Homo sapiens: one gene and its partners. The protein of the gene in region 2 purifies or fractionates together with the protein of the main gene of each other region. This does not show direct contact. Each region holds a gene or a part of one and is shown on either strand. Other genes may lie near its edges. The genes, in order: POTEF, TKT and PDCD6.

Region 1 (3,751 bases), on a different chromosome or scaffold from region 2:
GTGAGACCCCTTTGCCTTGTCTTGGAATAATGTGCAGATATGCATTGTGTGAATGACATCTGATGGCGCCATCTTGCCCTGTACATCATTTTAGGGACAGCTCCAGTATTTCATGAAAATTAAAATTTCTTCTAGTGACGAACAAAATGATACTCAGAAGCAATTTTGTGAAGAACAGAACACTGGAATATTACACGATGAGATTCTGATTCATGAAGAAAAGCAGATAGAAGTGGTTGAAAAAATGAATTCTGAGGTATTTTCTTTAGTTATTTTCAAATGTTTTTATATGTGTGTATATTTTAAAGAACTGTATTTTGGAAATATAAAGGATTTTTAAGTCATATATATGTGTGTATATATTCTATATATCCTTTGTCATATATCTATATACGTACGTATAGGATAAAGCCATGTTCTTAATTCACCTTCATTTGCCTGCAACAGTTGAGTAGTGACCTGCACAATGGCCTCAATCCAAAGGAGAAGTATTTGATATTTTTCATAAGAATTGATGATCTTTCCACATCAGAAATAAGTTTTGCTACTGAAAACAGATTTTCTCGTTTTTGGACATTAGTTTTTTAAAAAATGTTAATAGAGAAGTCAATTGATTATTTTTACTGATAAGAAAGTAGGAAATGTATAGCTGGGTCAGAGGCCACATTGTGGATACCATTATCCTTACTTTTGCAGAGAGGAACAGTTTGCTCCAAGTAGTTTCTCATTTCAATGTAAAGAGGTTTGAAAAGAATGACATGCCATGATACACATTTAGTAATAATTTATTGATAAGTATTTTCTTTCTGGAGAAATAGTTCAGTATATTTCCCCTATTTCACCATTACTACTGTTTCAAACATTATAAAGAGGAAATAAAAGTTACCGCAATGGCAAATAATCTCATGATTTCTAAGAAAATCTCTATAAGTTGTATCTTATTTACCATTCATATTTTGAAACAAAAGGTTTCTTTTGTATTTATATATTTACACCACAGAAGTAAGTGTGGTTTTGTGGAGGATCACTAGAAGTAGCATCAGCAGACCTGGGGAAAATCCTGCATCTGTGTATATTTTTTGACCTCTCCTTTTAAGAATCGCGATCTTAAATGAGTTCAGTATTATATGTAGAAGAGCAATGCCTAGATACAGATGTGTACAGTGTAGAAGGGTACAGTGCTTATTTGACAGTTATAAATAAATGTAATTCTTATAACTGAGTATAGAAATATTAGAAATGTAGAATATCGGTAAAACGTTCTTAAGTAAAAGAAACTTAAAGAACTTTGAGAAATTGCTTCTGTCCAAATATATGCATAGCTAAGGCTCTTAGGATGGTGTGGTTGATAGGTTAGATATCAGAGTGTAAACCTAATCTTAAAAATGTAGTCAAATTATTAATCTTATATTTTATGCCTCTGGGTTTTTTGTAACTCAGAAAAAAGGCTTTTTTTAATTCTGGGATTCTTAAAAATCCTCTAGTGATTTATTTTTCATCGTCTTTAAATAAATATTTAAACTTTTAGGAATTTAGGAGCAGATTCCTAAAAGTTTAAATATTTATTTAAAGACGATGAAAAATAAATCACTGGAGGAATTTACACTCTTATTAGGTTTGAAGTTTTGTCCAATTTTTTTCCAGTTAAATATCCACTATGGGGATTCTTTCATTATACAAATACATGTTATTTTTGAATTTCAGAAGAAATCATGATATGTCAATCTATTGAGTGCTAACTAAAAGTTCTCTTTGTTTACTTAGCTTTCTCTTAGTTGTAAGAAAGAAAAAGACATCTTGCATGAAAATAGTACGTTGCGGGAAGAAATTGCCATGCTAAGACTGGAGCTAGACACAATGAAACATCAGAGCCAGCTAAGAGAAAAGAAATATTTGGAGGATATTGAAAGTGTGAAAAAAAGGAATGATAATCTTTTAAAGGCTCTACAATTGAATGAGCTCACCATGGATGATGATACCGCTGTGCTCGTCATTGACAACGGCTCTGGCATGTGCAAGGCCGGCTTTGCGGGCGACGATGCCCCCCGGGCTGTCTTCCCTTCCATCGTGGGGCGCCCCAGGCAGCAGGGCATGATGGGGGGCATGCATCAGAAAGAGTCCTATGTGGGCAAGGAGGCCCAGAGCAAAAGAGGCATCCTGACCCTGAAGTACCCCATGGAACACGGCATCATCACCAACTGGGATGACATGGAGAAGATCTGGCACCACACCTTCTACAACGAGCTGCGTGTGGCTCCCGAGGAGCACCCCGTCCTGCTGACCGAGGCCACCCTGAACCCTAAGGCCAACCGCGAGAAGATGACCCAGATCATGTTTGAGACCTTCAACACCCCAGCCATGTACGTGGCCATCCAGGCTGTGCTGTCCCTGTACACCTCTGGCCGTACTACTGGCATCGTGATGGACTCTGGTGACGGGGTCACCCACACTGTGCCCATCTATGAGGGGAATGCCCTCCCCCATGCCACCCTGCGCCTAGACCTGGCTGGGCGGGAACTGCCTGACTACCTCATGAAGATCCTCACCGAGCATGGCTATAGGTTCACCACCATGGCCGAGCGGGAAATCGTGCGTGACATCAAAGAGAAGCTGTGCTATGTTGCCCTGGACTTCGAGCAGGAGATGGCCACGGTGGCCTCCAGCTCCTCCCTAGAGAAGAGCTACGAGCTGCCCGATGGCCAGGTCATCACCATCGGCAACGAGCGGTTCCGCTGCCCCGAGGCGCTCTTCCAGCCTTGCTTCCTGGGCATGGAATCCTGTGGCATCCATGAAACTACCTTCAACTCCATCATGAAGTCTGATGTGGACATCCGCAAAGACCTGTACACCAACACAGTGCTGTCTGGCGGCACCACCATGTACCCTGGCATGGCCCACAGAATGCAGAAGGAGATCGCTGCCCTGGCGCCTAGCATGATGAAGATCAGGATCATTGCTCCTCCCAAGCGCAAGTACTCCGTGTGGGTCGGTGGCTCCATCCTGGCCTCGCTGTCCACCTTCCAGCAGATGTGGATCAGCAAGCAGGAGTATGATGAGTCAGGCCCCTCCATTGTCCACCGCAAATGCTTGTAGGTGGACTCTGACTTAGTTGCGTTACACCCTTTCTTGACAAAACCAAACTTCTCAGAAAACAACATGAGATTGGCATGGCTTTATTTGTTTTCTTGTTTCATTTTTTGTTTTGTTTTTTATTGGCTTGACTCAGGATTTAAAAACCGGAATGGTGAAGGTGACAGCAGTCGGTTGGAGGAAGCTTCCTCCAAAGTTCTACAATGTGGCCAAGGACTTTGATTGTACCTTGTTCTTCTTTTCAATAGTCATTCCAAATATTGTGAGACGCATTGTTTCAGGAAGCCCCTTGCCCTGCTAAAAGCCACCCCACTTCTCTCTAAGGAGAATGGCCCAGTCCTCTCCCTAGTTCACACAGGGGAGGTGATAGCATTGCTTTTGTGCAAATTACATAATGCAAAATTTTTTGAATCTTCGCCTTAATACTTTTTAATTTTGTTTTATTTTGAATGATCAGCCTTCGTGGCCCCCCTCTTTTGTACCCCAACTTGGGGTGTATGAAGGCTTTTGGTCTCCCTGAGAGTGGCTGGAGGCAGCCAGGGCTTACCTGTACTCTGACTTGAGGAGAGTTGGATAAAAGTGCACACCTTAAAACAAATTGAGGAAGCACAGTATTTCAGTACAGTGGACAGCTTAGCATGTTGACAACTGAGAATAAAAT
Region 2 (3,651 bases):
GAGTCTCGCTCTGTCACCCAGGCTGGAGTGCAGTGGGGCGGCGATCTTGGCTCACTGTAACCTCCACATCCTAGGTTCAAGCGATTTTCTGCCTCAGTCTCCCAAGTAGCTGGGATTACAGGTGCATGCCACCACTGCCCAGCTAATTTTTGCATTTTCAGTAGGGATGGGGTTTCACCATGTTGGCCAGGCTGGTCTTGAATTCCTGACCTCAGGTGATCCTCCCGCCAGCCTTGGCCTCCCAAAGTGTTGGGATTACAGGCGTGAGCCACTGCTCCAGGCCCTTTTTCTTTTAAAAACAAATTTTTAGGCCAGGTGTGATAGCTCACACCTGTAATCCCAGCACTTTGGGAGGCCAAGGTGGGTGGATCATTTGAGGTCAGGAGTTCGAGACAGCCCAGCCAACATGGTGAAACCCTGTCTCTACTAAAAAATACAAAAAAAATGAGTCGGGCATGGTAGCAGGCACCTGTAACCCCAGCTACTCGGGAGGCTGAGGCATGAGAATCGCTTGAACCCGGGAGGCGGAGGTTGCAGTGAGCCAAGATTGTACCACTGCACTCCAGCCTGGGTGACAGAGTGAGAACTTGTCTCAAATAAATAAATAAATAAAAATAAAAACAAATTTCTAGCAGCTTGATTAAGGTATAATTGGCGTATCATAACATTGTAAGTGATTTTAATGAATTTGCAGAGATTTACTACAAAAATTTACCACATCTCCTAAAAGATCTCTTCTGGACATTTGCTGTCACTCCCCATTTCCACCCCCAGTCCTGGGCAACCACTAATCTAATTTTCTGTCTCTAAATTTAACTCTTCTAGACATTTCATATAAATGCAATTATACAGAATGAGTTCTTTTGGGTCTGGCCTCTTAGCATAATTTTTAGAGGGTCATCCATGTTGTAACATGAATCAGTACTTTGTTCCTTTTTTTTGGGGGGTGGGGGGCAGGGTCTCCACTGTGTCCCGAAGCTGGAGTGCAATGGCACAGTCATGGCACACTGCAGCCTCAACCTCCCGGGATCAAGCAGTCTTCCCAGCTCAGCCTCCTAAGTAGCTGGGAGGCACTCACCACCATACACAGCTAATTTTAAAAATTATTTGTAGAGACAGGGTATGTTGCTGAGCCTGGTCTCAAATTCTGGGCTCAAGTCCTCTTCCTGCCTTGGCCTCTCAAAGTGCTGGAATTAACAGGCATGAGCCACCACGCCCAGCCCTTCATTTCTTTTTACGGCTGAATATTCCGTTGTGTGGACATAGTGCATTTTGTTTATCCATTCACCAGTTTTTCTTAGCATTTTGCTCTTATCCTAGCTCTGCTGCTGGCAGGCCGTGTGACTTTAGGCAAGTCACTTTCTGTGAACCTTAGTGGCCCCATCCTCCGAATGAAGCATAGTCTAATATTTACTGAGCAATTGCTAATTTCTATGCATGGTGCCACGTTCTGTACATACACACTACATCATTTAGTCAGATTCTTCTTTTACCTCCGTTTTATAGTGAGGAAACTGAGGCTCAAAGAGGTTACAGCCCCAAGGTTACTAGGATACATCATGTATTCATTTGTGCACTCAGTTTGTGCCTGGTACTATTCAAGCCTGTGGATACAACAGTGAAAGGCCCAAAGCTCTGTCCTCAAGGAGCTTGTATTGCAGTAGGGTAGACAGGCAATAACCACCTAATGTCAGGTGGCAAGCATGAGTGAGGGGAAGAAGAGCTATTTTAGACAGTGTGGTCAGGGAGGGCTTCTTGGAAGAGGTGACATGGGGCAGAGATCTGAAGAAACAACCTGAGGTCTGGAGCCAGAGGTTCTTTCCGGGCAGAAGCCAGCTCGGGTAGTTCAGGGCACAGGAAGAGCAAGAACTGCTTCTGATGTTCATTTCCACCCTGACATCCTGGGATTCTCTCCTGAGTATTTTTTTTTTTTTTTTTTTTTTTTGAGGTGGAGTCTGTTGCCTAGGCTGGAGTGCAGTGGTGCGATCTCGGCTCACTGCAGCCTCTGCCTCCCAGGTTCAAGCAATTCTCCTGCCTTAGCCTCCCATGTAAAGTAGCTGGGACTAGTGGCCCGCACCACCATGCCCAGCTAATTTTTGTGTTTTTAGTAGAGGCGGGGTTTTGCCATGTTGGCCAGGCCGGTCTTGAACTCCTGACCTCAGGTGCCTCAGGTGAGCCACCGCCCCTGGCCTCTTCTAAATTTTTTTTTTTTTTTTTTTTTGAGGCTGAGTTTCACTCTTGTCTCCCAGGCTGGAGTGCAATGGTGAGATCTCAGCTCACTGCAACCTCTGCCTCCCAGGTTCAAGCGATTCTCCTGCCTCAGTCTCCCAAGTAGCTGGGATTACAGGCACCCACCACCATGCCCAACTAATTATTGTATTTTTAGTAGAGACGGGGTTTCACCTTGTTGGCCAAGCTGGTCTCAGACTCCTGACCTCAGGTGATCCACCTGTCTCTGTCTCCCAAAGTGCTGGGATTATAGGCGTGAGCCACCTGAATATTTAAAAAAAAAAAAGTATATGCATAAAGAAGAAGATAAATGATGTACTCTTGTCATAAATAATGAACCTGTGTGTAGCTGCTCCCAGGATTAAGAACTAGTACATTACAGTGATTTTTGGAACTACAGTGGGTCCCTCCATCCTCATCTTCCCTTCCCCTGAGAAAGAACTATACCCTGAATTTTTTGTTTGTTATCATTCTATTGTTTTCCTTTTTTTTTTTTTTGAGACGGAGTTTTGCTCTTGTTGTCCAGGCTGGAGTGCAATGGCGCCATCTCGGCTCACTTCAACCTCCGCCTCCCGGGTTCAAACGATTCTCCTGTCTCAGCCTCCCGAGTAGCTGGGATTACAGGCATGTGCCACATGCCCGGCTAATTTTGTATTTTTAGTAGAGATGGGGTTTATCCGTGTTGGTCAAGCTGGTCTCAAACTCATGACCTCAGGTGATCTGCCCTCCTCGGCCTCCCAAAGTGCTGGGATTACAGGCTTGAGCCACCGCACCTGGCCTGTTTTCCTTGTAGTATATACAAAAAGACTTGTACATAAATCAATATGGTCTTCTTTGTTAAACAGATCCTTCTGCACTGTGCTTTTTTCACACTATATTTGGGAGAGAATATTGATACCGGATTTGTGAAGTGTAGCTCGCTCATTCTTACTGCTGTATAGTATCCCATTATATTAATATATTCCAGTTAACCTCGTCTATTGATAAACATATAAGTGAGTTCCAGGTCTTGCAATTGCAAACAATGCGGGGCAGCCCTGTTTGTGTTTCCTTTTTTTTGTTGTTGTTGTTGTTTTTTTCCTGAGATGGAGTCTCACTCTGTCACCGAGTCTAGAGTACAATGGCACGATCTTGATTCACTGCAACCTCAGCCTCCTGGGTTCAAGTGGTTCTCCTGCCTCAGCTTCCCAAGTAGCTGGGATTACGGGTGCCTGCCACCATGCCCAGCTAATTTTTGTATTTGTAGTAGATACAGGGTTTCACCATGTTGGCCAGGTTGGTCTCGAACTCCTGACCTCAGTTGATCCACCCACCTCAGCCTCCCAGAGTGCTGGGATTACAGGTGTGAGCCACTGTGCCCGGCCTGTTTGTGTTTCCTGTAGAATGTGTGGAACATGTGAGTACATTTCACTGTATGTTCCT
Region 3 (3,651 bases), on a different chromosome or scaffold from region 2:
TCAGGTTCCGCCTAAGCCTCAGGGTTCCTTACTTGGTGGGCACCACCTGCTCCCTTCCCCACCTTTGTCCTCTTTTTCCTCTGCTGGCTCCTCCGGGGTTGGGTGTGTTCAGAGGCAGAGACAGGCTAAAGGTCTTTGGCTTTTAGGTTCTGTTGGTGGGTGAGTTCCAGATATAGCTTTCTCTTGTAGGATATTTCATTTATTTATCTATTAAAAATATTTATTTAGAACACACCATTCATGTGCCAGACCCTGTCCAGGCACTGGGGATAGGGTGATAAATGAGATCAACAAAAATACCTGCCCACATTAAGCTCCTGTTCTAGGGAAGACAGAAAGAAAATACACGTGTCCTTAGTATATTAGAAGATTCCAAGTACTGTAGAGAAAAATAAAGCAGGCTGGACTCGGTGGCTCATGCTTGTAATCCCAGCACTTTGGGAGGCTGAGGTGGGAGGATTACTTGAGCTCAGGAATTTGAGACCAGCCTGGGCAACATGGCAGATCCTGTCTCTCCCAAAAAAAAAAAAAAAATTTAGCTGGGTATGGTGGCGTGCATCTGTAGTCCCAGCCACTGGGGAGGCTGAGGAGGGAGAATTGCTTCAGCCTAGGAGGTGAAGGTTGCAGTAAACCGAGATCGTGCCATTGCACTCCAGCCTGGGTGACAGAGCCAGACCCTGTCTCAAATAAAACAAAAGGAAAGAAAGAAAATGAAAAAAAGAAAGAGATGGGGCAAGCAGGGGAGAGGGCTGGGGACACAGGGGAGGGTGCTGGGGATGCAGGGGAGGGTGCTGGGGACACAGGAGGGTGCTGGGGATGCGGGGGAGGGTGCTGGGGACACGGGAGGGGCTGGGGACATGGGAGGGGCTAGGGATGCAAGCTTTCCTGAGTTCCCACAGTTCTCTGCCCCTCTCCTGTCTCACGGGGTGTGGGCCACCTGTGGCTTGCGGTTGTTTCGCGCCAAGCTAATATCTTGTTCTTCCCAACAGAGAGGCCCGTTGAGGCTTCTCTGTCCTCCATGGGGAACAGCATTGGCCTAAACCTGCAGACACCATTGCAAAGGGAAGTCAGCTCAGGCAAACCCGCTGGTGAAGAAGAATTCCAGTGTGGGGACACAGAGACTGACATTTCTTGCCATGGGTGATTTAATTTTGGGCCTCAGTTTTTCATTCCCCCCTAAGAGTATGACGCAGCCGCATCCTTGCCAGGGCCGGAGGGAGGGTGGATGGACTTATAGGTGTTGCTTGTGGCTGGGTGACTTGCTTCTGCCAACGAGATTTTCACAGACACGGCACAAGCAGAAGCCTGGAATGTGTGGCACTGCCAGGCCTGCCCTCTTAGGCTCTTGATTTTCCCCACGAGATATGCGTGCCCCAGGGAACGGCGGCTCTGGCTGTGGAATGAGAGGCGTGTGGAGCAGGCATGGTTCCCACCCTCAGCCTAGAGTCAAGGCCAGACTAGATCAGCCTAAGCCCAGCCACGCCACGGGTGCAGCAGTGAAGAGCAAATGCCAACTGTCCATGACAGTGACTTTCAAAGGGGCGTGTCATGTGCCTCATCCCAGCAACAGGGAAGGCATTTCTCTATCAGTCAGTTGGTAAATGATTATTGACAATGTGTGGGAAGGTGGAGTTATTTGAGTAGATTTGGCCTCTATTCTCATGGAGCTTCCTTTCTAGAGGGGAAGGCAGATGATGGATGAATAAATATAAATGATTCTAATAGGTTGGTGCAGCAGTCATTAAAAGTAATGGCAAAAAAAAAAAAAAAAAAAAAAACGAGGAGCCGGTGCTGCAGTTCATTAATAGTAATGGCAAAAACTGCGATGACTTGTGCGCCAACCTAACCCAGTAATCACGGGTGTGCAAAATGTGGCGATGGGCAAGTTCCGAGTGCTAGGAGAGCATCTAGCTTCCCGGAGTCAGGAGACGGGGGTTGGCAACCTAACCAAGGTTAAGTCCAAGGGAGGGGGGTGGGCAGGGAGCGATATTTCAGTGGAGACTCCAAGGACGAATGGTATTTAGAGAGTAAACCCCGATAGAGAGGGTTTGTGTCTGGCACAGAGAAGAGCCTGTGCAAAAGCCAGCGGGGCGAGAGGACACCATGTGTTCATCCACCTGAGGGGCGACCAGCAGGCTGGAGCTCAGCGGGTTGAGAGGAGGATGCAGAGCCCGGGAAAGGCACCCTAGGCAGAGGGCACAGCAGGGCAAAGGCCTGGAGTCAGGCCTGAGCCTGTGTGGTTTGAGGAACGGATAGAGGCCTGTCCGGCAGGAAGGGAACAGCACAGGGGAGAGACCTTAGGCCAGAGCAGAGGGCAGGGCTGTGCTGGGCACTGTGGGCTGTGGATGGTGCTGGCATTTAAGAGGGGAGACCATAGACCAGGGCAGAGGGCAGGGCTGTGCCGGGCACTGTGGGCTGTGGATGGTGCTGGAATTTAAGAGGGGAGACCATAGACCGAAGTAGAGGGCAGGGCTGTGCTGGGCACTGTGGGCTGTGGATGGGAGCTGGCATTTAAGAGGGGAGACCATAAGCCAGGGCAGAGGGGTGGGGAGGGCTGGGCCAGGCACCAGAGTGGAGACCACAGGCCAGGGCAGAGGGCAGGGCTGTGAGGGCACTGTAGGCTGTGGATGGGAGCTGGCATTTAAGAGGGGAGTCCATAGACCAGGGCAGAGGGCAGGGCTGTGAGGGCACTGTAGGCTGTGGATGGGAGCTGGCATTTAAGAGGGGAGTCCATAGACCAGGGCAGAGGGCAGGGCCGTGCTGGGCACTTTGGGCTGTGGATGGGAGCTGGCATTTAAGAGGGGAGACCATAGACCAGGGTAGAGGGCAGGGCCGTGCTGGGCACTTTGGGCTGTGGATGGGAGCTGGCATTTATGCTCAAGTGATGGGAATATGTTAAAAGATTTTAAGGAGGGGAGTAACAGTTGGGATTAATGTGTATTCTGGGAATCTCAACAAAGTAAATTCATAGTTCGAATTTTCATAAGACTTCTGCACAGGCAGAGAGAAATAAGATCGCATCTACAGCTGTGTGGTGATTTTCTTTAAAAATACTACTAAGTTTTTAAACGTGATTTCAAATGGTGTGTTTCTGTTTCACATTGGACATAAGTAGATTGCAAGGCTAATGGAAAGTAGAAAAGTTAACTCATGAACATAAAAGAGACATCGATTTGAAAACAAAACATTTATTCATTTACTTCTGCTGCAGTTTTCTTGACTGCTGAATTTCGTAAGAAGGGATTGGTCAGGGAGGGTCTTGGGGCTGAAGACCTGGAGAGGAGCTGGTGCTATCGCTGTTCAAATCTGAAGGTGGTGGAGATGGAGCCTTGGGGAGGAGCCGGTGCTGCCTTTTAAGTCTATGAGAGTCGTTGAGCTGGAGGTCCAGGGAAGAGCTGGTGCTGCCACTGATGTCTTAGGTTGTGGAGCTGAAGACAGTGAAGGAGCTGGTTTGGCTGTTCTGTGAGGGTCGTGGAGCTGGAGATCCAGGTGGGAGAGGTGTTCTAGTTTGAGGGTCATGCAGATGGAGATCTGTGAGGAGCTGATGTTATTTTAATTGGTGGGTCGTAGAGCTGGAGACCAGGGAGGAACTGGTGTGGTTCTAGTTTGAGGGTTGTGGAGCTGGAGACACAGGGAGGAGCTGAGGTTCTA

The links.
Region 1: the proteins of TKT (region 2) and POTEF purify together in Homo sapiens (affinity purification with mass spectrometry; 2 studies listed by BioGRID and IntAct, with this or other methods). This does not show direct contact.
Region 3: the proteins of TKT (region 2) and PDCD6 fractionate together in Homo sapiens (co-fractionation; one large-scale study listed by BioGRID). This does not show direct contact.

The regions. Positions count from the first base shown.
Region 1 is NC_000002.12:130,073,586-130,077,336, reverse strand, and holds part of POTEF (POTE ankyrin domain family member F), read left to right. Parts: intron 1-135; coding exon 136-256; intron 257-1,764; coding exon 1,765-3,093; 3' UTR 3,094-3,751.
Region 2 is NC_000003.12:53,245,928-53,249,578, reverse strand, and holds part of TKT (transketolase), read left to right. Parts: intron 1-3,651. UniProt on the Homo sapiens protein: Catalyzes the transfer of a two-carbon ketol group from a ketose donor to an aldose acceptor, via a covalent intermediate with the cofactor thiamine pyrophosphate.
Region 3 is NC_000005.10:278,029-281,679, forward strand, and holds part of PDCD6 (programmed cell death protein 6), read left to right. Parts: intron 1-3,651. UniProt on the Homo sapiens protein: Calcium sensor that plays a key role in processes such as endoplasmic reticulum (ER)-Golgi vesicular transport, endosomal biogenesis or membrane repair.